2 separate regions of the Homo sapiens genome follow, and region 2 is linked to region 1. The links come from fine-mapping of genetic effects on gene expression. A gene starts in region 1. The other region holds a variant in brackets. All regions are shown on one strand. Distances are from middle to middle. Region 1 holds the start of NGB (neuroglobin). Region 2 overlaps POMT2 (protein O-mannosyltransferase 2).

Evidence for each region. PIP is the estimated chance that this variant, and not a neighbour inherited with it, causes the effect.
Region 2: its variant is fine-mapped to the expression of NGB in nasal epithelium (TOPMed, PIP above 0.99).

Annotation. Positions count from the first base shown.
Region 1 is chr14:77,270,106-77,273,011 of GRCh38, reverse strand. NGB (neuroglobin) reads left to right here and starts at 1,806. Exons shown (of 4, transcript NM_021257.4): 1 at 1,806-2,163. The coding sequence starts at 2,075.
Region 2 is chr14:77,294,453-77,297,358 of GRCh38, reverse strand. POMT2 (protein O-mannosyltransferase 2) reads left to right here. Exons shown (of 21, transcript NM_013382.7): 9 at 1,086-1,195. Among named protein-coding and RNA genes, the nearest start is that of NGB, 25 kb to the right of the region's middle. The variant G/A (reference allele first, on the strand shown) is at 1,780.

The DNA.
Region 1 (2,906 bases):
GAAGCGTGAGCTGGGTAGAGTGGGGTACCTGAGACCAGCCAGGTGGCCTGCACAGAGCACTGAGCATCTGGGCACTGAATAGTGAAGGTCACCAATGACACGTGTCCTTGCCCTGTGACCTGCTGCACCTGGCTGCAGGTCCACGGGACCCCAAGCTGGAAGTTTAGTCACGTCTTGTTCCTTCAGCCCCAATCACTTTGTGTTCTTGCTTGGAGACCTCTTGGACCCTAGGACACCAGCTTTTCCAGGCTGCCTTATAGCCTTGCTCTCCTGCTCCAGCCCAGAGATTTGTGAGGAAATGGGAAATAGAATAGGGGTTACCACAAACTCCTGAGTCCTTGGAAGAGGGAGAACAGCTAGATGATTTCCTGGGGCATGGCTAGGAGTAGGAAAGAAAAGTTCTGCTGAGGCACTCAGTTCTGATTCAGGGCCAGAAGGAGAAATTTTAAAGACCAGGACTCGCCACTCCATGTCTAGCACAGGGCTGGGCATGGAGCCCCAGCTGTTCATAACCAGGGGCTCAAGAACACCCACCTTCTACCCATGGAACTAAAGGAGGTGGACTAAAAGGTCCCAGAGACCTCACCACCCAACCCCTTTGCTGCACAACTGAGGAAACAGGGCCAGAGAGGCGTGGACAGACAGAGGAGATAGGCTCGGAGACCCCTGAGGGAATAATGAGAGAGAAATAAAGGTGAAAACGGGCTTGCTCTCCCAAACCTGGGCCACCAGCACTGGGCTGGGGCTTGAGGAACTTTCTGCTTGAAAGAGAAAAGTTTAGTTGTAATTGGCAGGTGGCCAATTGCACACCCTGAGTGGGGAGCATGGATTCTATTATCTGAACTTCTATTGAAAAAATTAAACAGTACTTCCGTTAAAAAAAAAAAAAAAAGGCCGGGCGCAGTGGTTCACGCCTGTAATCCCCAGCACTTTGGGAGGCCGAGGTGGGCGGATCATGAGGTCAGGAGATCGAGACCATCCTGTCTAACACGGTGAAACCCCGTCTCTACTCAAAATACAAAAAATCAGCCTGGCGTGGTGGCGGGCGCCTGTAGTCCCAGCTACTCGGGAGGCTGAGGCAGGAGAATGGCGTGAACCCGGGAGGCGGAGCTTGCAGTGAGCCGAGATCACGCTATTGCACTCCAGCCTGGGCGACAGAGTGAGACTCCGTCTCAAACAAACAAACAAAAAGATGAAAAATCATGGAAGTGGGGAAGGCCCAGGGAGGGAAGAGGTGAAAAATTAAAATTAAAATTAAAATTAAATCATGGAACGGTAGAATGTTAGAGCTGAACTCCCTCAAGATTCCACCCTGGCCAAGCAGAGCTGGGATTAGAACTGGATCTCACGGCTTTCTAAAGATGGAGTCTCAAAAAAACCCAGGCCTGGCTGGGAATGGCTGTGGTCTTGGCCCTGTCCCTACGGCTGAAAGCCCTGGTGGCCCCCAACGTGTGCTGGTGCCCTAGTCAGACCGAGAACTAGGCCCCTAGGCCGCCTCCCCAGGCCTGACCTGCAGGCCAGGTGGGTGGCAAACTCAAATGCCTCTGGCAATGCGTGAGTTGAGGGGCCTGTGGAGAGGGGGCGCATGCAGCGCCTACCTGAGGCGACCAAATTCAACACAGTGCCCTCGGGGCTCGGGAGGAGAAACTGAGGCCCAGAGAGCCTCCGCGATGTCAGTTACGTTCTGCAGGCCGGGCCTTTCCCAGGCCACCATAGCGGCTGGCGGAGGGAGCGCGCGCCTTGCTGGCCTGGAGGGGGCGGGGGCCGTGGCGGCTTTAAAGCGCCCAGCCCAGGCGTCGCGGGGTGGGGCGGCTCTGGCGGCTGCGGGGCGCAGGGCGCAGCGGCCAAGCGGGGTCCCCGGAAGCACAGCTGGGGTGTCTCCACCTACGACTGGCCGCGCGCCTTTTCTCTCCCGCGCCAGGGAAGGAGCGGCTGCGGCCCCCGCCGGGCGGAGGCACGGGGGGCGTACGAGGGGCGGAGGGGACCGCGTCGCGGAGGAGATGGCGCGGCACGTGCGGTGACGGCACCCGAGCCCTGAGGGTCCCAGCCCCGCGCTCCGCGTCCCCGGGACAGCATGGAGCGCCCGGAGCCCGAGCTGATCCGGCAGAGCTGGCGGGCAGTGAGCCGCAGCCCGCTGGAGCACGGCACCGTCCTGTTTGCCAGGTGAGGGCTACACGAGCGCCCGGGGATGCGGGTGGAGGCTGCCTCGGCGGGAAAGGGGTCACGCGGCAGGACCGGCCCCGAAGGAGGGAAAACTGGCCGCTGCCGGGGCGCTGGGGCGCCTGCCAGATGTGCGCCAGAGGAGCGGGGCGCGGCGACGGGTGGCACAGCCCCTCTGCCTCTCTCTCGACCGTGGGCGCCTGTTGCCAACCAGCGCCGCACACCACTCTCCCAGCGGGGCTCACCGGGCCGGGCGGGATCCCCTCCCGCGGATCTCCCCACATCTGGGCGGGTGGACCTCCGTCCCTGCGCGGCGCCTCCACCCCGCCTTGTGCCTCCTGCGTCTTCCTTAGGTAGCGACTGCAGGGGTGCACCCCGCTGCCGGTATCAGGGTACTGGGGTGCCCCGAGAGCCGGGGAAGGGAGATGTGTGGGGCGAGCTCCTGCGCCCGCGTGTGAGCGGTCTGGCTCCAGGTGTGTGGATCCCTGACAACCAACAAGACAAACCTTTCCGAGGAAAGAGCCAGAGAGCAGCCGGGGAAGGGGTGACAGATGCGGGAGCCTCACCGCAGGGGAGAGGGGTGGGGGGTGTGCAGGCCGGGTGGGAAGGGAAGGCCAGTCTCCAACCTCAGCTCGCAGTTTTGGTAACCCTTCCGCTATCACCAACCGGGCACTGCTTCCCTCACCGTGGTGTTACCTATCCTTGGCACCCTTGGACAGTCCAGAACTTCTACCCAGGCTTCCGCA
Region 2 (2,906 bases), 24 kb before region 1:
AGCTGAGGTCAGATCACTGGGGAATGCAAGAGGAGGAGGAATTAGGAGAGGAGACTGCGGAGGAGCAGCCCTTGAGAGAGTGTGCGGTCGAGAAGTGGGAACAGAGAGCATTTCAAGAAATAAAGGTGGTCAGCCATGTGCAGGGCTGCCGAGGTTGGCCTGCCTGAGAACTCAGAAGAACACAGCTGTGGAGTTTAGCAAATTCCTGCTCATTATTTAAAGGCCTAGTTCAGCTGTCACCTCTTCGATCAAGTCGTCCTCTCTTTAATCCTTGGGAGAGAATTTGGCCTGTTCCGAGTTCCCACCATTCCCACCATGTCACACATTGTCACGCCTTTGTGGGGCACTTGCCCACTGTCCTATACTTGTCAGTGTGTGAAGCCATCTTCCTTGTAGACAGGGCTCTTCCAGGGCCACAGGCAGGCCTCCTCCACCTTTGGATCCAGTGTGTAATTCTTCTGGTCCACTGAATGAACAAAGAAAAACAGGAGCAGGTCATTCCAGCGGATTGGAAGAAGGACAGTATTAAGGAAAAAAGGTTTCTCAATAACTCAGGGCCTATAGGAGCAGGGGATGCTCTTGAGAAGTGGTTTTCTGTGTTTTTTGTTTTTTAATTCAGAGTAAAACAAAACACCATTGAACAGTTATTTCATATGGTACTAGATTCAAAAGGCACGAAAGGATATAGAGTGAAAAAAATGGTTTGTCAAAATGCTGTATCTTGGAGAACATTCCAGGCGAAGACAGAAGATACTTCCTTCTTTATTCCATTGAATCCATGTGGAGACCTTGAGAAGGACAAGTTGTTTTTCGTCTTTTGCTGTTACACGTAGTGCTTTGATAATGACAGTGTTAACACAAGCTTCTTCTGAAGCCCTCAGGAGGCGGGGGAGTAAGTGGGCCCTGTGGTGAACTCTGTCTTGAGTCGGCTCCATGGGAGTGAGAAGGTAGCTGGGCTTCAGTCCAGGGCCCAGGGGAGTCTCGCAGAGGGTTAGTGAGCCCTGTGGCTTCCGAGGCTCCTCGCAGGCACGGACAGCCTCTGGCACTGTGCCAGCTCACCCCTCTGCTGTCTCCCTTCCTCCCAGACCTGGCCTACGGCTCTGTGATCACTGTGAAGAACCTCCGGATGGCCATCGGCTATCTGCACTCCCACAGGCACCTCTACCCCGAGGGCATTGGTGCCCGTCAGCAGCAGGTCAGTGAGCCTTTTGTGCACTTGTACGGCAGCAATGCTGTTCGCCATGACAGTTCACTCTCTTGCCTCCTATCCTTTGCTCATCCTGTTCGCCCTGCTTGAAACATTCTTCCTAGCCCTGCACCCTTCTGTTTTCTCTGGCTAACCCCAGCTTCTCTAGGCATCAGCATAGGTGTTCTTTAGTGACAACCATGTCCCACCTCTCCATGGTGCTGGGTGGGGTGCCCCTCTGATGAGAGGCTTGGTGGCACCTTCCACATGCCTACGTGGTAAACCTTCTCATATTGAACTGTGCATGCTTACTTCCCGCCGTCTCTTTGGTACTTGATTGCTAGCTCCTGGAAGGCTCAATTGCCTAGCACGGTGCCTGCTATGGGATGGGTGATGAATAAAGTGTGGTATTTATGAACACAGACCTGGGAACCAGACTAGATGATCGGGGTGTGAAGCCTGCTTTCATATAGAGTGTCACTTTGGACAAGTTCATCTTCTTGTGCTTCAGTATCCTCTTCTTTTTTTTTTTTTTTTTTTTGAGATGGAGTCTTGCTCTGTCACCCAGGCTGGAGTGCAGTGGCGTGATCTCA[G/A]CTTACTGCAAACTCCGCCTCCCGGGTTCACGCCATTCTCCTGCCTCAGCCTCCCGAGTAGCTGGGACTACAGGCACCCGCCACCACGCCTGGCTAATTTTTCGTATTTTTAGTAGAGACAGGGTTTCACCGTGTTAGCCAGGATAGTCTCGATCTCCTGACCTCATGATCCACCTGCCTCGGCCTCCCAAAGTGCTGGGATTACAGGCATGAGCCACCGCGCCCAGCCTGTATCCTCCTCTTTAAGTTGGGGAAAATGAGTAGTACCTCTCTCCATCAAAGGGCAGTTGTGAGGATTAAATGAGATAACAATGTGAAGTGCTTATGAAAGATTAGCCATGTGAGTATCATCTGAATGAGTGAACGATGCTGTGTCCATGTTAAGGAGTGTTTGTGTGGCTGCAGTGGATGGTGCCTGAGAGGGAGAAGCAGGATGCTGAAGAGGTTGGTGGGGCCATATTGGGGAGAGGCCTGTGTTATAGTAGATTTGACTTTGCTCCATAGACATTAGGGAGGCAATCAAAATTATTATGATTATGATTAGATCTCTAGTTTAGAAAGGTAACTTTAGTGGAAATGTGATAGCTCACAAGGAACCAGTTTGGAGGCAATAATTATGACAAAGGACAGTGAACAGAGGCAAAAAGCATGGAATCTTTACTTTGCAAAGATTTGTTCTTTGCAAAAAGTTGTCTCTCTCCAAATGCTTTATTTTTATTTCCCTTTTAGTTGCTAGAAAGTGACTCAGTATGTATTAGTGCAATTTCATGCTGCTGATAAAGACATACCTGAGACTGGGCAATTTACAAAAGAAAGAGATTTAATTGGACTTAAAGTTCCACATGGCTGGGGAGGCCTCACAACCCCGGTGGAAGGCAAGGAGGAGCAAGTCACATTTTATGTGGATGGCGGCAGGCAAAGAGAGAGCTTGTGCAGAGAAAATCCCATTTTAAAAATGGTTTTAAAAACCATCAGATCTCTGGCCAGGTGCGGTGGCTTATGCCGAGGTGGGCGGATCACTTTAGGTCAGGAGTTTGAGACCAGCCTGGCCAACATGGTGAAACCCCATCTCTACTAAAAATACAAAAAAATTACTCGGGCTTGATGGCACGTGCCAGTAATCCCAG